6 linked regions of the Homo sapiens genome follow. The protein of the gene in region 2 purifies or fractionates together with the protein of the main gene of each other region. This does not show direct contact. Each region holds a gene or a part of one and is shown on either strand. Other genes may lie near its edges. The genes, in order: TSPAN15, ALCAM, NIPSNAP3A, RAB35, COX5A and UGGT1.

Region 1 (3,500 bases), on a different chromosome or scaffold from region 2:
CAGAATCCGGGCCCCTTAGAGCCAGAAAGGTTCTCGTGGCTCCCGGCTCCAGCTCCTTCAGGCAGGATGTACGCACCTCATACTAGCTGTGCCACCTTGGGCGAGTTACTTGGCCTCTTGGATTATTAGGGGACACCTAGCTCACAGATCTGATGAGAGAATGCCTGTGAAGGACTGGGCACGGTTCTGGCACATAGTGGTCAAGGCCCCACAAGAAGCTGGTGGTGGAGCAGGGCTGACTCCAACCCAGGGCTCCATCTTTCCTCCCATAATCTTCTTCCTTGTCCTCATCCTGCATTGCTGCCATAGGTGGGGCTTGAGGAGCAGGACATGTTTGCAGAAGCCCCATTCTCTGTGTCCACTGCCTGGCCTGTACCCCTCCCTACCCCAGACAGCTTGGTCCTGGTGCATCTGGACAGTTGCTGCTGGGACATGCGTCAGAGCTGTGAGCCAAGTTATCTTTTTTTTTAAAAATAATGTTTGTTTATTTTTTTGAGACAGGGTCTCACTCTGCCACCCAGGCTGGAGCAGTGGTGCAGTCATAGCTCACTGCAGCCTCGAACCCCTGGGCTCAAGTGATCCTCCGGCTTTAGCCTCCCAAGTAGCTGGGACTACAGTCATGCACCCCTGTGCCCAGCCAAATTATCTTTCTTTTCAGCAGTTGCTCTTAAGGCAGCAGGTGCTGTCCCACACCCTGGGTTGTGCAGACCTCTCAGATGGCCCAGGATCTGGCCCTGTGAAAATGTTCATGGGAGTGCCTGTGATTCCAGCCCAGGTGGGAGCAGGGACCACACCAGTTCTGCTGGGGCCTCCTGCAGTGGGACCTAACCACAGGCAAGTCTACAAACCTGGAATCCAGAGGTCTTCCTGTTTTATGAGCCCCAGGAAAGGGGCTTTATTCCATTTGCCCATGAGGCTGCTTCTCCCTTTTCCTCTTTTCTACCTGCCCCTCCCTTTGCCTCTTTTCTGCTTATCAGAGCCTCTCTTCTGAGCTGGCAGATCCAGCATGCTGGTTCACTTTCCAGCAGCCTTGAGGGGAGAGATCTTTATTCCATTTGCCCATGGGGCTGCCTTTCTGTGCAGCCACCAGAGCTCCTGGCCAGCCTGCGGCTTTCCAGGGGCTACGGGTTAGTGCTTTCCTGGCTGGAGCCCAGGTCCAGTTTGTGGCCAACTAAACAGACTCCTGGATATAAGGAGGAATCTCCACCAGCCCGTGACCCCGGGCATGGTTTCTGCTGCTAGGCATGGCTTGACAGTCAGACTGAAGTGGCTTCTCCACTCATACAGGGGCAAGTGGCCATCCTATCAATGGAGTCATGGAGGCACACAGGAGTTAAGAATTCCCCCGAGAGCACACAGCAAGGCAGAGGTGCCTCAGGAATGCTTCCCAGTCCTGACTTGCTACCTGCCCCTCCCTGTCCCTCTTTTCTATTTGTCAGAGCCTCTCTTCTGAGCTGGCAGATCCAGGATGCTGGTTTACTTTTCAGCAGCTGTGAGGGGAGAGATCTTTATTCCATTTGCCCATGGGGCTGCCTCTCTGTGCAGCCAGCAGAGCTCCCGGCCGCCCTGAGGCTTTCCAGGGTTAGCACTTTCCTGGCTGGAGCCCAGGTCCAGTTTGTGGTCAGCAGCGTCCACGGCCTTCATAAACTATCCTCCAATGATGGGCAGCAGTTCTGGTTTCTAGTGCATTGCTGCAGAGGCCATCTGATTTGTCATTTTCCAGTGCCCTGTAGGTCAACAGAACATCACCTCCTTCTTTCAAGTGATGGAGCTGGGCTGAGATGAAGGCTTTGGCTGGCGGAACATCCAGGGGCCCTTCAGTGCTCACAGCTTGGGTTTCCGTGGGCCTGAGGTCAGGCCTGACAATTTCTCATCATCCCCAGACCCTGCAGATGCTGTAGTCCGTGAAGGGTGCTCCTTCCCCTTGGGTGGTGTCCCCTCATGGGTAGGGCCTTGGTATGCAGCCCAGGAAGGGTCCTCACTGACGCCTCTCCGCTGTTTGGAGGCTCAAGCCATGATTCGTCATCTTGAAAACTTAAAAAATGAGATACAAAATTATAAATGCAGTAAGATCGCTACAATGAAAAAAATAGGTCTACAAAAAGACTTAAAGGAATGGAAATATCAGCATATGAACTCATATTTCCTCTGAGGGATGAGACTAGGGTGATTTTTCTCCTCCCCTTTATATTTTTCCTTGGCTCTCAATTTTTTTTTATAATCAAGGGGAAAATATCACAAAAAGAAAAATAATATCCCTTCCAACTCTAATGTGATATGATTTTGTAAAACAGGAGTCAGGCCAGTGGCGGGGATGGGGGAGGAGCGGCCTGGCTGTTGATGATGGTAGGAAGGGCAGTGTATGATGGAGAAAAAGGTGAGGAGCAATCAAGGTCAGCTTCCAGGAGGAGGTGATTTCCCAATTCCATTTTTCCCTGATCAAGAGGATTTCTCTGAGCCACAATGTAACAAGTTCAGTCTCCAGTGCCATGGGCCCTGGTAACTCTGAGTATCTACTTATGAAAAGTCAGAACAAGTCATTAGGTATTGGGGGAACCCACCCCCAATATTTCACCATAGGTTCTTTCTATTTTCCATAAGTGTCAGCCAGCTGAGAAATAAAGAGAAAGAGTACAAAGAGAGGAATTTTACAGCTGGGCCGCTGGGGGTGACGTCACATTATCAGTAGGACCATGATGCCCACCTGAGCCTTAAAGCCAGCAAGTTTTATTAAGGATTTCAAAAGGGGAGGGGGTGCAAGAACAGGGAGTAGGTCACAAAGATCACATGCTTCAAAGGGCAAAAAGGAAAACAAAGATCACATGCTTCTAAGGGAAAAATCAGAAACTCCTCATAAGGGTCCAACAAAGATCACAAGGCAAAGGGCAAAAGCAAAGATCACAAGGCAAAGGGCAAAAGCAGAATTACTGATAAGGGTCTACCTTCAGTGGTGCACATATTGTCTTGATAAACATCTTAAACAACAGAAAACAGGGTTCGAGAGCAGAGAACCAGTCTGAACTCAAATTTACCAGGGTGGAGTTTCCCAATCCTGAGGGTACTGCAGGAGACCAGGGTGTATTTCAGTCCTTATCTCAACTGCATAAGAGAGACACTCCCAGAGCGGCCGTTTATAGACCTCCCCCTAGGAATGCAGTTCTTTTCCCAGAGTGTTAATATCAATATTCCTTGCTAGGAAAAGAATTTAGCGATATCTTCCCTACTTGCATGTCCGTTTATAGGCTGTCTGCAAGAAGAAAAATATGGCTCTTTTTGCCCAACCCCGCAGGCAGTCAGACCTTATGGTTGTCTTCCCTTGTTCCCTGAAAATCGCTGTTATTCTGTTCTTTTTCAAGGTGCACTGATTTCATATTGTTCAAACACACATGTTTTAAAATCAACTTGTACAGTTAACACAATTATCGTAGTGGCCGTAAGGTGACATACATCCCCAGCTTACGAAGATAACAGGATTAAGAGATTAAAGTAAGACAGGTGTA
Region 2 (3,500 bases):
CTGCTCTTGATTCTTCTGTACAAGGGCTGAAAATGATGTTTAAAAAATCATGTATTAATTTAGTACATACTTAAAGTAACAGAGCATAAGAGTCATAGCTCAAAAGAGGGCAACATATTTAGATCCTGAATAGTTTAAAGCGGGGGTCTCCAACCTCCAGGACTGGTATGGGTGCAAACAGCAGGAGGTGAGCGGTGGGCAACCACAAGAAGCTTCTTTTGTATTTACAGCCACTCCCCATGGCTCACATTACTGACTGAGCTCCTTCTCCTGTCAGATCAGTTGTGGAATTACGTTCTTACAGGAATGCAAATCCTGCTGTGAACTGCACATATGAGGGATCTAGGTTGCATACTTGTTATGAGAATCTGATGCCTGATGATCTGTCACTGTGTCCCATCACCCCTAGATGGGACTGTCTAGTTCCAGAAAAACAAGCTCTGGGCTCTCACTGATTCTACATTATGGTGAGTTGCATAATTATTTTGTTATATATCACTATGTAATAATAATAGAAATAAAGTACACAATAAACCTAATGCCTGTGAATCACCCTGAAACCATCCCCCCACCCTGATCCAAAGAAAAATTGTCTTCCATGAAACCAGTTCCTGGTGCCAAAAAGGTTGGAGACCACTGGTTTAAAGAATACCTAGAACAAAGAAAGTCAGAACAGGTCCTCTGAATGTACTCCCTGTCCTCCTGCCCTCACACCCACCTCCTTCAAGGGGATGTAGCACTTTTCCATTCCTGTACCATGTGATATTGCCATCTGGATAACTGTCTTCTGAAATGCAGTCACCCAACTGCAAAATAAAAAGGCAATGTTATTACCTTGGTTCAATCAGGGGCTGTCAATTTGGAAACTCCAGAAACTCAGGCAATGCAGAGTTATTCCAAGGGTTTCTTGACCCGTTTATTTTCCAACACTGACCAAAGACTGAATACATGCTCTCTGGTATAAAAACAATGTCTTTTTAAGACCTTTTTAACAATTTATTTGAAAATATACTTTTGACGATTTTTAAATGTGCAATAGATGGTGTCACTATTATAAAATCACATTCATTTGAAAGCATTGCCAAATTCATTTTGACACTATTCATTTTTAACATTAACCAAATAACATTACTCTATTAACACTGACTATTACCATGAATCATAGATCTTCATACGGAAGAATAATTTGGTGTTAAAATGGGGCTGTGTCTCCAGTTTCATACTACATATATTTCAAGAGGATATACATTATCATGCTCTATAATTCCCCTCACTTTCTTTAAATGTATTTTAACTTTAATATTTGGTATTCATCAAATAATTTTATGCAGTAAAATTTAATATGACACAAAGAATGTAGGACTTGGGTTTCCATCTCCCAACAAAGGAAAACTTTGGTATTTTAGTTACATTATTATTCAATATGGAACTCCAACTTTGTCCCCCACTTTAATACAGCTTCCCTTCACATATCTGCTAATGTGTTGTTCGAATCTGATCTCACCTCTTTACTTCAATCTTTCAGTAGCATAATTTGCCAACAGAATAAAGTCCAAACTCCCTATTTAGTATGTAAGATTTGTCATGATCCAACTTTTCTTTGCCTCTCCAGATTCATCTCTTTCTATCCTTTCTTGTTTTCTGTCTTGGCACCCAGTTTCATCAATGCCAAAATTTGCTGTTTCCCAAACACACCGTTCTCTTTCACATCCTATTATTTCATATTGTTGGAAAGCCATTTCTACCTTTGGCTTGGTGAAAATCTATTCATCTTTCATCATTCTCTCTATATATTTTTTCTACACAGGGTCTGGCTCTGTCGTCCACAATGGAATGCAATGGTGCAAACATGGCTCACTGCAGCTTTGACCTCCTAGGCTCAAGCAGTCCTCCTTACCAAGCATCAGCCTACCAAGCAGCTGGGACCACAGGCATGTACCGCTATGCCCAGCTAACTTTTAAATATTTTTTATAAACAAGGTCTTGCCATGCTGTACATTCCTGGGCTCAAGTGATCCTCCCACCTTAACCTCCCAAACTGTTGGGCTTACAGGCATGAATCATGCTAACTGGCTTCATCCTTCTATTAAACAATCCATTAATTCAAATGAGAAAGACTCCTCTTTTCAGAAATGACCCCACCTTCCTTGATGTCCTCATGGTTACCTGAGACTGTGAGCATGTTGTACCCTCTGTGCCTTGTAGATAATTTCTGATTGGTAGCTGCAACACTGTCATCTCCACAAGAGCAAAGCCTTTCTTACTTGTCTTGGAATGTAAGGTCAGAAGAAGGCACTTACAACACTGGCTAAATAAAGGTATTAATCAAAAACAATTCTTACCTTTTTTAGCTGCTCTGTTTCGAGAAACAGTGCTTTGCTTACAATTTCAGGTTTAGATGGTTGCTCTAAAGTTAAGCAGAGAAAGATTTTAAGTACATATGTAAGAAAAACGGGACTTCTGTGATTTGATTCACAGCAAAAACAATTCATTTACTCAATACAGAAGAATAAGCAACAGAATAAAAATAGATTTCGTTATACAATCTGGATTTGGGGAATCTATAGGTCTACCCCTTCAAATATTTATTATCTTAAATATTATTTTCAGTGCTTGTAATTCCTTTGAATAAAATATAAATAATGCTTTCTGAATGCTTTATAAATAGTGAATATGGATTTGATAGTGAAACAGGGGCTAATGTCCTATATAGGATATATTGTCTCTAATTGATTACCATGAGCACTTCTTACTTATCAGTAACTTCCAGCTCATTAACTGAAGACATTAATTTACATGAACCAGAATCACAAAGATACTTGTTTAAAATTCAGATTTCTGAGCCCTATTTGGCCTACTGAATCAGAATTCCTGAAAAAAAAAAATCCCATAACTCTACATTTTAAACAAGTTTCTAGGGGATTCTCAGTCACCATAAAGTTTGAGAAACACTGTTCTAAAATCATGGGAAATAGAAAGCAAGTTAAGGAATTTATAAACCCAAATTTCTGAAATATCTCTAACTTTACCTCTTAAGCCAAGTCACAATATGAAAGTGTAAATGTGAGAAAATCTTTCAAATGTGGAACCTGAGATGATGGACAAAAACATTTTAAATATAGGTAGTTCTAAGAAACATAAATTTTAATAAAGACTTCAGGAGCAATTGATTAAAAGTTGCAGCAACAATTTATTATTTAAACTGATTTTAAGTTATTTTATTCTTAGCTGCTATTTTCTATCAATGATGGATTTTGCGCTTTTTAAATAGCTCCAACAATTAGTTTACACAAAAAGTATATTGCCTCATTGTCACTGATGTTTGTGAGTCTCATGGACCAAAATTATTCTATTTTCTTATAAGCAAATGTATTTAAACAATCAGCTACTTTTTCTTTTATAGTCTTATTGTTTACCACCTAATACTTTTAATTTTGATTACCAAACTAAACTAAATTGGCTTTTGTATAATTATTACTCAATTTGGAATTCAGTTATTA
Region 3 (3,500 bases), on a different chromosome or scaffold from region 2:
ACATGTATATCGATTTCTGTATTACGTATGTATTACATAAAGAAGGTCATACTACATTTCCAATGTTTCTTTAATGTAAACAATATTAACATAAACTTCATTTGAGCACAACTATGTGTTTATAATAATACTTTCGATGACAACTACTGACATTTATTGAATGATAACTATGTGTCAGGCCTAGTTTTAAGCATTTTAATGTATTAACTCATTTAATCCTCATAATAATCTAGGTCCTCATAATAATCTATCATTTTATAGATGAAAAAACTAAGGTATGGTGAGGTTTACTTACCCAAAGTCAAAAAGTAAGTAGTGTACCTGGGATTCAAACCCAGGCAGTCTGAATCTGATTATTTCCTTAATATAAAGTAGAATTTAAGTTGACAGAACCAAAGAGCATGTCTTATATATATGTACTTACATATAGTGTATATAGTATACACTGTCCTCCAGAAATGATGTACTGATTACCAATTCTCCTAACACTGAGAATGAATTTAAGATTAAAAAGTGTATGAACACACATTTTCTGTAGTTTTTAAAAAAATAAAACTTAATATGTGCAGTATAGAAAATTAAGGTAGAGGCTAGGTGTAGTGGCTCAGGCCTCTTATCCCACCACTTTGGGAGGCCGAGGCGGGCGGATCACCTGTGGTCAGGAGTTTGAGACCAGCCTGGTGAAATCCTGTCTCTACTAAAAATACAAAAATTAGCTGGGCATGGTGGCACACAGCTGTAATCCCAGCTACTTGGGAGGCTGAGGCAGGAGAACCGCCTGAACCAAGGAGGCGGAGGTTGCAGGGAGCTGAGATCGTACCTGCACTCCACAGAGCGAGGCTCCATCTCAAAAAAAAAAAAAAAAAAAGAATATTAACATAGAGACTTAACCATTTATCTCACTGAAATATGACTACTATGTATGTTATATACTTTCAAATTTCTTTTCTGTATAATTTAGCACACCTATACACATACACACCCAGGCATATTTTCTAGAAGTAATACTGGCAAAAACAATAAAAATAAGGCTTTTATTTTTATTGTCAAATTTTGGGGGAAGATTAAGCTAATATGAACCCTACACAGTATCTGAGTACTTATTTTTTCCTGACCTAATACTATATCCATGTAAGTATACCTTTTATAAGGTAAAGAAATGGCATCTCATTATTGTTTTAATATGCATTTTCTTTAATATATATTTAGTAGCCATGTGCATGTCTACTTTTGCATAAATTTTTATTTTTATTTTTGCTTTTGAATTTCATTTATGGTGATTTTCAGGCATCCAGATAGTTTGAGCCTTTGTATAATAAAATCATAAGTTGATTTTTTTTTCTTCATAGTTTCTTCATTTGCTTTTGGCTTACAAATATAGTCCCAATCCACATTATTAAATAAATTCATCTACATTTTGTTTTACCAATTTTATGAATTAAATTTTTTTCATTAAAATATACAATCCAGCTTGACTTTATTTTCGCATATGGTGTGAGATAGGCATCTAATAATTTTCATAACAGTTTCTCCTCCATGTATTTTCCAACCTGAATATACATCTGTTTTTATATATTCTATTTTCTTATGATAGATTATTACAAGAAGTTGAATTTCTGCATAAAGATGGGTATATTAGGTTTGAGATGTCCATTGGACATAAAGAGATAATAGAAAGGCAACAGGATATTATGATGAGTCTTTCAAATATTTGTTAGCTATTCTTAGACATTTATCCTTTCTTCGTTACTTTTTTTTTTTAAGAGACAGGGTCTCACTATGTCGTTCAGGGGTTGGAGTGCAGTGGTGCAATCATAGCTTACTGTAGCCTTGAACTCCTGGCTCAAGCAATCCTCCCACCTCAGCCTCCCAAGTAGCTAGGACTACAGGTGTTTGCCACCATGCCCAACTAATTCTTAAAATTTTTTTTGTAGAGACAAGCTGTGTTGCCCAGGCTAGTCGTGAACTCCTGGGCTTAAGCAATCCACCAGCCTCAGCCTCCCAAAAGCGCTGGAATTACAGGTATGAGCTACCTCATCAGCTCTTTTATCCTTTCAGATAAACTTTACAAATGTTTTTCTGAATTTGCCACAAAAAATCTTGAAATTCTGATTGAAATGTTTTTCAACATTACAAGTTAAATACCCCAAGTATGTGTTTTATTAAATAAATTTATATCCATATATAAATTTACCTCAATATATATACATATTTACTATATCTCCCTATATAGATATATATAAAACTGGTGGAAAATGGGTAAATTTTTATGAGGGGGGTTTTCATATTTATACAAAACATATATTACTTTTTTGCTTAGAGATAATCTCCCTACCCCAAATAATATTATTTTTAAAAAATCAATAAAAGTACATTCAGAGGAAAAAGAAATGATGAAAGTAACAGACTATTTCTTGAGGTTCCTTCATTTTTTTTTTTTTGAGATGGAGTTTTGCTCTTGTCACCCAGGCTGGAGTGCGATGGCACGATTTTGGCTCATTGCAACCTCCGCTTCCTGGATTCAAGTGATTCTCCTGCCTCAGCCTCCAGAATAGCTGGGATTACAGGCCCCCACCACCATGCCTGGCTAATTTGTTCTATTTTTACTAGAGACGGGGTTTCACCATGTTTGCCAGGCTGGTCTCGAACTCCTGACCTCAGGTGATCCACCCCCTCAGCCTCCAAAAGTGCTGGGATTACAGGCCTGAGCTACCGTGCCCAGCCGAGGTTCCTTCAGTTTAAAAAATTTAATCATTTTGATGTATCAGGGAAAACAGCTATTCAGCATTTGAAGGTTTCATAAGTTAACATTCTAAATAAATAAGATGTAAAACAGATTTTCTCAATTTTAAAAATTACAAAAAACTAAACATTTGGCAATAAATAATAAAACATACTCTATAATGAGAAAGAACCTGACCCAAGGAACTTAGGTCACAATATATATTACAATTTCATATAAGAAGAAATGGACAATTGTACCTCTGTTGAGTGCTCCGTACTCTGTGTGGAACACTCCAACTAGTTTTGTGTAGCCTAGATTGACATGAGCATGAACTGCCCTTTTAAATGCATCACCCCACAGAGCTGGCCCACCAGGTTTCATCTGAAAAGTGGCCAGTTCATAGACTCCTGGAATAGGGAGAAAAAGAATTTTTCAGAAAACATTCAAGCAATATCCAATCACGTTTCTCAGTGAATAGTCTTTCACTATCTACACACACAGATTTGGAGGATCAGACATGCATACATATTATGTAGACATGTTTATTATATTTGCACTCTCTGCTTTTATGCTTAGAAAGTCCTTGCCCATGTTTAAGAGTGAGTTGTTATGCTTAATCATACAGATGACAAAGAAAAAGAACTGGAAGCTATTATAACTATTATCTGAAATATTTTTAATCTATAACATTTGTTAAAAAACTGTTGAGAATGTATAATGATATAGAATTTTGAGCTGCAAAAGTCTATGCTTTTAGAAAATAAAAGAATAAAAG
Region 4 (3,500 bases), on a different chromosome or scaffold from region 2:
GGCCTGCAGCTCAGCCACAAAGGTGGGCAACCGGTGGGCGGCCGGATTTCCCAGGAACAGCTTTAAGGGTAGGGAAGGGCCTGCTGACATGCACCGTGTTCGTCTCTAGACAGCGTCACTTCCAAGGCATCAGTGCAGGTGACGGGAGCCTGCACAGGCCAACTCCAGCTGCCATAACTGACACCTACCAAGAGGAATTGTCAGCGACTAAGTCCTGGGTGGGCAAGGCACTTCGCAACCCCCTAGCGAGGCAAATGCTATTCTGCTCTCTCTGTAAGGTGACGGCACAGTGGGCCGGAGGGTCGGCTGACTCTCCAAGGAGATAGAACATGGCCACTGTCCGGCCAGACTCCAGCCAGGGTGCTCAGCGACTCCCCCACAGCACCCCCCTCACATCTTCAGGACCAGGAAGGGTGCAGCCAAACGCCACCTACTACAGCCAACAACAGGCTCACTTCCCGACAGCCTCAGGGACCCACCAGTGACATTTCCACCATGACCAGGCACCGGTCGCTCAACTGTGTCCACAGGTCAGTGGCGCGGGTTGGGTGGGAGTGGGCGTGTGGACTCACGTGGAGGTGATGGTGCGGAAGCGCTCCTGCCCCGCTGTGTCCCAGATCTGCAGCTTCACCTTCTCCCCGTTGATCTCCACGGTCCGGATCTTGAAATCCACTCCGATCGTGGTGATGTAGCTGCCTGCACACACAGGGCAGTTAACGAGGCCCAGCGCGGTATCTTCCCAGGCCCTGAGCCCCACGCTGCACACAACACACCCCCAGGCTCCCCCACCCTCCCGACTCATTACATGTGCCTGGTACATTCTAGGTCCCAGGGACACAGCCCTGAACATCCTTGTTCACAAGGCCCCTCCACACACAAGTGAAGGAGGGAGACAGGATGCAAGCAAACAAACAAAGAGGACAATTTCCGAGAGTGAAAAGTGACACATAGGAAATAACACGGGATGGGACTGGCGGGAGTGGGACAGGCTCCTTTAGAGTGGCTAGATGGGGACACACCAGCTATGTCTGAGAATGGTAGACCTACGGGCACTCTGGGTTTTTCTTTTCTATTCAAGTCAAAAAAAATTTAGGGCCCTCAAAATTCACTTCCAAACACACAAATAGGTCATGAGCTGCAGTCTGAAAGCCACTGCTCCAGGCAGGGGAGACAGTAGCAAAAACAGCCGTGAGTGGGGGCGGTCACATGAGGTCAAGCCTGCCGCCCAAGGCAGGCAGAAAGTGGCGAGGCCAGATCTTGGACCTGTGTGCCACTTCCAAGAACGTGGACTTTCTCTCGTGTGTGCTGGGGAGGCACCAAAGGGTTTTAATCAGTGGCATGAGCTGCTGCATTTTAAATAGCTCTCTTGCAGCATCTGTGGGAAAAATGGATTTTTTTTGGTGGGGGGGGGACAGCGTCTCATTCTGTCGCCCAGGCTGGAGTGAAGTGGGATTGCACCCTTGACCTTCCCCCAGGGTCTGATAATCCTCCCACCTCAGCCTCCTGAGTAGCTGGGACTACAGGCATGCGCCACCACGCCCGGCTAATTTTTGTGTTTTTAGTACAGACGGGGTTTCACCATGTTGCCCAGGCTGGTCTCAAACTCCTGACCTCAAGTGATCCGCCTGCCTCAGCCTCCCAAAGTGCTGGGATTACAGGCACAAGCCACCGTGCCCGGCCTGAAAGATGGATTTGAGGAGAATTTCTAGCCGGTGTAATTGCCCAGTCCAGCTTTCCAAAGCCTGACACTAGGAAGAGCACAGCTTCTCACTCCATTTGGGGCTTATGCTATAACAGTGCAGGAGACACCACACACACACACAATTATGTGAAATGTGGCAAGGGCGTAGGAAAGGTCAAATTCCAAGGTGGGGTGGGGAACAAGGCAGGCTTCAGGGAGGACGTCACATCTGGGCCTAGCTTGAAAGAACAGGTAAGACTTCAAAGGTTGAGATTAGGTAGGGGAACGACATCCCACTCAAAAGCAAATAGCTGAGGATGATACGCAACCAGAACACATTCAGAAAAGCGGCCAGCACCCGGGGTCTTCCAGCCAGGGGAACGCCAAGGAGTGCAGCCCACTGCCTAGCACAGTTAGGCTCCCCAGAAACAGCTGGTGGCTAACGAACCAAGCAAGCCAAAGAACAAAAGAATGACCAGGGGGTAGGAGGAAGCCAGAAAGGCGAACTGAAAACAGACTACGAGCGCAGTGGTTCTCAGCCGGGATGACTGTCCCTCCAAAGGACACTCAGCAATGTCTGGAGGCATTTTTGGTTGTCACAGCAGGGGGAGGGAAGTGTTGCTGGCATTTAGTGGGTGGAGGCCAGGGATGCTGCTCAACATCCTTCGACACGCAGGATAGCCCCACAACAAAAATCACAGGGCCCAGACCCGGCGCGCTGGCTCACGCCTGTAATCCCAGCACTCTGGGAGGCCGAGGTGGGCAGATCACGAGGTCAGGAGATCAAGACCATCCTGGCTCACATGGTAAAACCCCGTCTCTACTAAAAATACAAAAAATTAGCCAGGCGTGGTGGCGGGCACCTGTGGTCCCAGCTACTTGGGAGGCAGGAGAATGGCGTGAACCCGGGAGGCGGAGCTTGCAGTGAGCCAAGATCACACCACCGCACTCCAGCCTGGGCGACAGAGCGAGACTCCGTCTCAAAAAAAAAAAAAAAAAAAAAAAATCACAGGGCCCAAAGGGTCAACAGTGTCCAAGTGAAGAAATCTTACTGTAAACTCTGTGCAGGTGAGAGGGGCCACTGAGGTTTTTAAACAGAGAAAAGACCCTACCAGACACACACATGAGCGGTTCAGGGTGGGTAGGGGTTGCCGTAATGCTTCCAGGTAGAACCAACAGTAAACTGAGATGCTGGTCGTAGAAATGGAAAGGTGGGAAGAGATTGCAACAACAAGCCCTCCAAGCACTGAACACAGATTGGGATGGGGAGGGAGGAGGCCATTAAGGAGGAAGAGGAACATTTTTTAGCATAATTAGAGGCTGTTAATCAGCTATCATTCTTAAACAGAAGGTTAACAGCCAGTCGCAACAAATAGCTGGTATTTATTGAGCAATTACTTAGTCCCAGGCACTGCAACCTGCACTATCTCAGGTCATCCTATAACAACCCCATGGGGAAAGGACCATTATGATTTCTACTTTACACATGAACTGAGGCTTCTATTTTACAAATGAACTGGCTAAGGTCACACAGAGCAGCCATCTCTTTCTAACACCACACCACTAGTGAGATTGCAGGGACAGTGTCAAGGAAACAAAGGGGGCAAAACCCACTTCTCCACCAAGAGACATCAGCTATGGAATCACTTTCTTTTTCTTTTTTTTTTTTTTTTTTTGAGACGGAGTCTCACTCTGTCGCCAGGCTGGAGTGCTGTGACAAGATCTCGGCTCACTGCAACCAACTCCCTGGTTCAAGCGATTCTCCTGCCTCAGCCTCCTGAGTAGCCGGGATTACAGGCACATGCCGCCACACCCAACT
Region 5 (3,500 bases), on a different chromosome or scaffold from region 2:
GTTCAAGGTAGGCTTTTGAAATACCTTGAGAATAACTGCAATTGGACTAAATCCAGAACATCTTAAAGTCTAGAATTACTGGAAAAGAAGGTAGTGATGACAGAATTTTGTGAAGGCAATTAGACATGCCCAGCAGGCAACACGAATAATTAAGTTAACGGGAAAAGTTTTTTCATTTGCCTCCAATTTGAGACCTTAACTGAATTAACTACCAGTGCTGAATGGATTGATAGCCTACAGAACCCTTAATTATCTTACCCATTATAGATAAAGTAATGTCACACTTTTGCTGTTAACGGACCTTAAGTTTCTTTCTTACAGACCACAGTATCTTTTCATGGAGAGCTGTACTTTGAGAATACATATGTCCAGGGCTGGAGACTTTTCACTGTAATATATAGTTACACCTGTGCTGTCACAAGGTTCCTTAGGAACGAATAAGAAGTCAAAAGAACTAAGAAAGTGCCGGCCGGGCGTGGTGGCTCACGCCTGTAATCCCAGCACTTTGGGAGGCTGAGGCGGGCGGATCAACTGAGGTCAGGAGTTTGAGATCAGCCTGACCAACATGGAGAAACCCCGTCTCTTAAAATACAAAATTAGCCTGTAATCCCAGCTACTCGGGAGGCTGAGGCAGAAGAATTGCTTGAACCCAGGAGACCTCGGAGGTTGCAGTGAGCTGAGATCACGCAATGATTGCACTCCAGCTTGGGCGACAGAGTGAGACTCTGTCTCGAAAAAATAAATAAACTCAGAAATTATGACCAAATAAGAAGGAGGAAAATTAGTATATATCCTCCTATGTTTTCATATAATGTATATATATATTTTTTGAGATGGAGTTTCTCTCTCTTGTTGCCCAGGCTGGAGTGCAATGGTGCCATCTTGGCTCACTGTAACCTCTGCCTCCCGGGTTCAAGCAATTCCCCTGCCTCAGCCTCCCGACTAGCTGGGATTACAGGCATGCACCCCCACGCCCGGCTAATTTTTTATTTTCAGTAGAGATGGGGTTTCTCCATCTTGGTCAGGCTGGTCTCGAACTCTTGACCTCAGGTGATCCACCTGCCTCAGTCTCCCAAAGTGCTGGGATTACAGGCGTGAGCCACCGTGCCCAGCCGACACAAATATGTTTAAAGTCAAACACATTTCTACAGTATCAACAGTTGTGTAGTATAACCAGTTCTGGGAAGCTCCCTCTTAAGAATTCCTAACATTTCGTATGACAAATAGCAAGAAGATGAATACACTTTGTAGTTAAATCTTTATATATCCTTTATTATTTCCTTGATAAATTCCTTTCTTTTTTTTTTTAGAGACGGAGTTTCTCTCTTGTTGCCCAGGCTGGAGTGCAATGGTGCGATCTCAGCTCACTGCTACCTCCGCCTCCCGGGTTCAAGCAATTCTCCTGCCTGGGCCTCCCAAGTAGCTGGGATTACAGGCATGTGCCACCATGCCCAGCTAATTTTTTTTTTTTTTTTTTTTTTTTTGAGACAGAGTCTTGCTCTGTCACCCAGGCTGGAGTGCAGTGGCGCTGTCTTGGCTCACTGCAAGCTTTGCCTCCCGGGTTCACGCCATTCTCCCGCCTCAGCCTCCTGAGTAGCTGGGACTACAGGCGCCTGCCACCACACCCGGCTAATTTTTTTGTATTTTTAGTAGAGACAGGGTTTCACCGTGTTAGCCAGGATGGTTTCGATCTCCTGACCTCGTGATCCGCCCGCCTCGGCCTCCCAAAGAGCTGGGATTACAGGCGTGAGCCACCGCGCCTGGCCTAATTTTTATATTTTTAGTAGAGACAGGGTTTCACCATGTTGGCCAGGCTGGTCTCAAACTCCTGACATTGCATGATCCACCCGCCTTAGCCTCCTAAAGTGCTGGGATTACAGGCATGAGCCATCACACACGGCCAAGATAAATTCTTAAAAAAGAAAGAAAAAAAAAAAAGAGAGAAAAAAGAAAAAAGATAAATTCTTAAATGGAATTGCTGAACAAAAGTGTATCATGTACAATTTGTAAGGCCTTGAATAAATGCTGCCAAAGTAGCCTCTAGAAAGATTTTAACTGCAATGTACATTCCTTCTAGTTATATAAGGACTCATTTTAGGCATTTTAACAAATTCAAAAATACAGAATATTCTGATACCTCAGCAATAGCCCACTCATTTACAGAACAATTTTAGCATTATTATTTCACTGACCTTAACAACCTCTAGGATACGAACTGTACTAGCAAAATCATTTAACCGTCTGCATGCCCGCAAAGCAGCATCAATGATTTTGGGCTCTGGAACCATATCATAGGTAACAAGTGTGTTTATCCCTGCAAAATTAAAAAGAAGGGCCATGTCAACCTCGAAGAGCCTCACTTAAACTATGAGTTATTTATATTTTTACTGAATCACTGATGTATGATCTTATCTGTCTGGGTCTCCATTCTCTTACCTATAAAATGAGAGAAACCTACCTTTAACAAATTCTAGATAATAAGATCACAGTGGATCTCCCTTAGTGAATCAGTGGAAAGAAAGAACTATGCAACAGCACGCAGATTGAAGGAAAAAATCCTGAGTTTTTTTTTTCCCCTTTGAGAACAAGAGGGTCATTTTCAACTCCTAACTTTTTTTTTGGAGATGGAGTCTTGCTCTGTCACCCAGGCTGGAGTACAGTGGTGCCACCTCAGCTTACTGCAACCGCTGCCACCTGGGTTCAAGTGATTCTCCTGCCTCAGCCTACCAAGTAGCTGGGATTACAGGCGGGTGCCACCAAGCCCAGCTAATTTTAGTATTTTTAGTAGAGACGGGGTTTCAGCATCTTGGCCTGGCTGGCCTTGAACTCCTGACCTCGTGATCCACCTGCCTCGGCCTCCCAAAGTGCTGGGATTACAGGCATGAGCCACCACATCCGGCCCTCCTATCTTTAACTCTTAGTACAATGAACACATTTTGGATGCTTTAAAAGAGATTCAAGGCTGGGCTCAGGTGGATCACCTGAGGTCAGGGGTTCAAGACCAGCCTGGTCAACATGGAGAAACCCTGTCTCTATTAAAGATACAAAATTGGCCGGGCGTGGTGGCACATGCCTGTAATTCCAGCTACTCTCGAGGCTGAGGCAGGAGAATCACTTGAACCCAGGTGGTGGAGGTTGCAGTGAGCTGAGATCGCGCCATTGCACTCTAGCCTGGGCAATAAGAGAGAAACTCCATCTCAAACAAAACAAAACAAACAAACAAAAAAACCAAAATAAAAGAGATTCAACTGGAAAACAGCCTAAAAACAGCCAGAGAAATGCGTAGAGTTAATGAAGCCTAAATGAGGACATTAAGGAGATATTATAGAGAAACATTAGTACACAGACTCATAAACATTCAACCAGAAAATGATTGGGCATGATTACTTTCAGATCTGCACAAAATGACACATAATAAAATTTAAGATTCTCTTAATGGGAATACATAATTGTTCTTTTTATTACTTCTACTCCAGATTGTTCAGTAAGAATTCTATTGG
Region 6 (3,500 bases), on a different chromosome or scaffold from region 2:
AAACTGAGCAGGGAGCAGTCAAATTTCCAAAGAGCAGGTACAGGCAATGAGAGTCACAAAGTATGGAGCAGAAGTAACTTCCCCACTAGGAGACATGAACCTCTTTTGGATCAATCGAGTGGAAAATACTCATCTATGCCAAATATAAGTGTGAGATGTAGCTGCACAAAGTAGAATGTGAAAGGCCCAGACAGAATCACAAGATGCAAAAAGGAGGGATGGATGGTGCTTATATCTCAGTTTTTCCTTAAAAACATAACTCTTACAATGTCAACTTACCATTTGAAGGAATCCCAAAATCCAGATTCATTCTCACTCGTTCCATCACTCAGCAAGTCTTCGTTCACCATATCTGCCTTCTTCTGAACCTGCAATCAAATGTGATAAACCTTACTCCCAGTATGTCTCACAGGCATAAAACTGCCTCTCACTGGATATACACTGTGAGCCTGTCATCAATAGGGAATTATCAATCAATTCTCTCACAAACAGGCACAACCCCACCCAGAGTCTAGAAGGATTCAATAGAAGTATCTTCGCCAGGACATTCACATCATAACCTTATGTGAGGAGACAGCAACCTCTTTTAATTAGATGAACCCCATTTTCAGCTTGCAACATAGGCAAAGAGCCGCAAACTCAACTGTGCAGTGAAACCAGAAGCACGATTCAATGAGTCAACAGCTAGTTCCAGGGAAGAGTGTGGCTGCTGGGGGCTCTAGCTGTTGGGAGGGAGGTATTTCATGTTATGACCAGTTTTCAGGATTCACTAGCACAAACAGGGGTTTCTTCTTGGCAGTACAGTGACCATTTTTCTTCTCAACAATGGATGGCCTATTTTAGGTTTCACTGTGTGTAATGATTCTTTCTTCAAGAATATACTGTACTTGAATTTAAGGCACTAAGAGCTTCAACATTCAGAGAACGGAAAGTACAAGTCAAAAGAAATTAAATAGGACTATCATTTTATTATTGTTGAAAATTTCCATTGCCAGTTCCCCCAATATTGAGAAAAGAATCATCAACAACACTATGAATTGTGGCTATATAAACAACATAGCATCTATGAGAATATTTTATATAAGATGGGACATGTTCTGCACACCGAGATTACCCAAAAGGTACAATCTTTCAGTTGAGGGAAGCCACAAACTCACAGTTACAAAGACATTTTGCCTTAAAGCAGTATCCCTATAATTGCCATAGCAAATTCCAAAGAGACTCTTGGGCTGGTTCCAAGATACATATTTTTAAATGACAGCTGTCCAATAACAGAATGCCACTACTTTTACCAAACTCACCTTCACTTTAATAATTTTGCTTTTGAAGTTGTTGAGGACGATAACCACCTCATCAGCATCAGGGGGAGAATCAGTGCCATCGTGGCTTTGCGAGAAAAGAAAGATCAATATTACAAGGCACAATTCTCAAAAGGCAGCAAATGCTCTCAGAGCATCTGAGTCCATCATCCTTCTCATAAAGGAGTTTTCCAGATCCAGCTATCTTCTTGCTCCTTAAGCTCCTTCGAGCTGCACAGAAGCACGTGTTGAAACCTCTCTTTATATAAGGTGCATGCCCAAACCTCCTTTGTGAGTCCTCTTGCAAATTACCCATCACGTAGTGAGAGGCACCCATGTGTGGTAACCACATGGTGAGTACTAAACAACCGCCTGTGTTCACAAGCTCTGAGCCAAGCACAGAGCCTTCGATAAAGGAATGCAGGGAACAGGCCCCCTGAACCATTATTGGAACCACACTGCCTCCGCTCTTTTTTTTTTTTTTTTTTTTTTTTGAGACAGAGTTTTGCTCTGTTGCCCTGGAGTGCAGTAGAGCAATCTCGGCTCAATGCAACCTCCACCTCCGGGGTTCAAGTGATTCTCCTGCTTCAGCCTTCAGGTAGCTGAGTTTACAGGCACCCACCACCACGCCTGGCTAATTTTTGTATTTTAGTAGAGACAGGGTTTCACCATAGTGGCTAGGCTGGTCTCAAACTCCTGACCTTAAGTGATCCACCCTCCTCGGCCTCCCAAAGTGTTGGGATTACAGGCGTGAGCCATCACCCATCACTCCCGGCCACTACTCTTTAACTGGAATAGTGTTGTAAAGGAAATCTGCTCGCTCTTTCTGCCGGAGGCAACAATCAGTCAACAATAGGCCCTGTACTCAACCTGGTGTCTATACGCTACCAGAAAAACTGTAACAAATTCTATTTGCAGGCAGACAGGAGCAGAGGAAGAAAAATTAAATGTATGTTTCCCTACTAATCAACAGCAATGCCTAAAATTTCCAGTCACCAAATTTCAAGGTGCAGAAAGTCATAATTACAACATGAATTCACTGCATTTGCTGTCATCTAGCAGAGAGTAGGGTTCTCAGGCAAAGGAAGATTCTAATGGGGGTGGGGCCCTGAACAGCTAGGAAGAGGGGGCACCATGCTCCTGGGAAGGGGAGGGCTGGCAAGGGCCAGGGCATCCAAAAGGGAAGGAGTTCGGAAGTGCATCCCAAATTTTGTAAAACCTTATCTGAGGAAAATGTTATGTGGGAAAAAACCTTCTACTGTTTACAATGGTGTTATTATAATACAGAATTCTTCTATTTCCTGGGTAAGAACCAGGCACTAATCCACTGTTTCATGTGTGTCGCTACGGAGCTAATTAAGGCAAGGACATACTACAGAGTGCTTCAAATGTGCCCTAATGGAAATCATCCCCTACACAACCTGACGGGAAGCCTCTTCACACAGTTTAAAACTAATTTAAATTGTGTTAAGCAGAATTTATATCAAACTTTTTTAAAGGCAACATAATTATTTTTAAACTAATAAATATGTGCAGTAAACCTTAAGGTAAAAGCTGGCTATAGAGGGAATGTTCTTACTATGCCACCACAGACCAAGGAATACCAGCACTAACAGCACAGCTTCAAGACCAAAGCTTCCATGTACTGTGCATTTGCAAATCACTCAGGGTCAACACATACACTCTCTGGGCAGAAAAGTGTGGCTGTTCTTTCTTTCTTTTCTCCTTTCTTCAAGTTTCTCATCTGCCTATCTATGAGCCGCATCACACTGATAGAATGATTTGATTCTGGGATATTGTTAGCACAAAGGAATAATTAAAGAATAAAGCCTGACTATACTCATTAGCATCTATACCTCTTATTATCTAATTCTATTCTAACAATTCTTCCATATTTAATTTCCTGGAAAAACCACTGTTTCATCACATACAACTGCAAATTAAATTCATGTTGCCTGGCTAACTGCCAGGGTAGTATTCAATTAGAGCTAATGCTCATTTCTAAAAGTTCTGGGATAATGTAACTGCATCACTTACTCCTACCTGTAAATTCTATAAATATCTTCAGAGCGTCCCTTCCTAAGTCTGAGGATCCAAGCTCCTGGGTTGGCTTTCAGCTGAAAGTAGCCCTAGGACAAGAAGAAAAGTCCAGTTAGCTCTCTTCAAAACACCAAAATGTTATTTCTGAGGAACAGTTACTTC

Evidence for each region.
Region 1: the proteins of ALCAM (region 2) and TSPAN15 purify together in Homo sapiens (co-immunoprecipitation; one large-scale study listed by IntAct). This does not show direct contact.
Region 3: the proteins of ALCAM (region 2) and NIPSNAP3A fractionate together in Homo sapiens (co-fractionation; one large-scale study listed by BioGRID). This does not show direct contact.
Region 4: the proteins of ALCAM (region 2) and RAB35 purify together in Homo sapiens (affinity purification with mass spectrometry; one large-scale study listed by BioGRID and IntAct). This does not show direct contact.
Region 5: the proteins of ALCAM (region 2) and COX5A fractionate together in Homo sapiens (co-fractionation; one large-scale study listed by BioGRID). This does not show direct contact.
Region 6: the proteins of ALCAM (region 2) and UGGT1 fractionate together in Homo sapiens (co-fractionation; one large-scale study listed by BioGRID). This does not show direct contact.

The regions. Positions count from the first base shown.
Region 1 is NC_000010.11:69,485,965-69,489,464, forward strand, and holds part of TSPAN15 (tetraspanin-15), read left to right. Parts: intron 1-3,500. UniProt on the Homo sapiens protein: Part of TspanC8 subgroup, composed of 6 members that interact with the transmembrane metalloprotease ADAM10.
Region 2 is NC_000003.12:105,530,909-105,534,408, reverse strand, and holds part of ALCAM (CD166 antigen isoform 1 precursor), read right to left. Parts: intron 2,408-3,500; coding exon 2,343-2,407; intron 807-2,342; coding exon 719-806; intron 1-718. UniProt on the Homo sapiens protein: Cell adhesion molecule that mediates both heterotypic cell-cell contacts via its interaction with CD6, as well as homotypic cell-cell contacts. Promotes T-cell activation and proliferation via its interactions with CD6.
Region 3 is NC_000009.12:104,754,183-104,757,682, reverse strand, and holds part of NIPSNAP3A (protein NipSnap homolog 3A), read right to left. Parts: intron 3,133-3,500; coding exon 2,983-3,132; intron 1-2,982.
Region 4 is NC_000012.12:120,103,254-120,106,753, forward strand, and holds part of RAB35 (ras-related protein Rab-35), read right to left. Parts: intron 697-3,500; coding exon 573-696; intron 1-572. UniProt on the Homo sapiens protein: The small GTPases Rab are key regulators of intracellular membrane trafficking, from the formation of transport vesicles to their fusion with membranes.
Region 5 is NC_000015.10:74,924,574-74,928,073, forward strand, and holds part of COX5A (cytochrome c oxidase subunit 5A, mitochondrial precursor), read right to left. Parts: intron 2,315-3,500; coding exon 2,193-2,314; intron 1-2,192. UniProt on the Homo sapiens protein: Component of the cytochrome c oxidase, the last enzyme in the mitochondrial electron transport chain which drives oxidative phosphorylation.
Region 6 is NC_000002.12:128,174,700-128,178,199, reverse strand, and holds part of UGGT1 (UDP-glucose:glycoprotein glucosyltransferase 1 precursor), read right to left. Parts: intron 3,428-3,500; coding exon 3,342-3,427; intron 1,387-3,341; coding exon 1,302-1,386; intron 369-1,301; coding exon 280-368; intron 1-279. UniProt on the Homo sapiens protein: Recognizes glycoproteins with minor folding defects. Reglucosylates single N-glycans near the misfolded part of the protein, thus providing quality control for protein folding in the endoplasmic reticulum.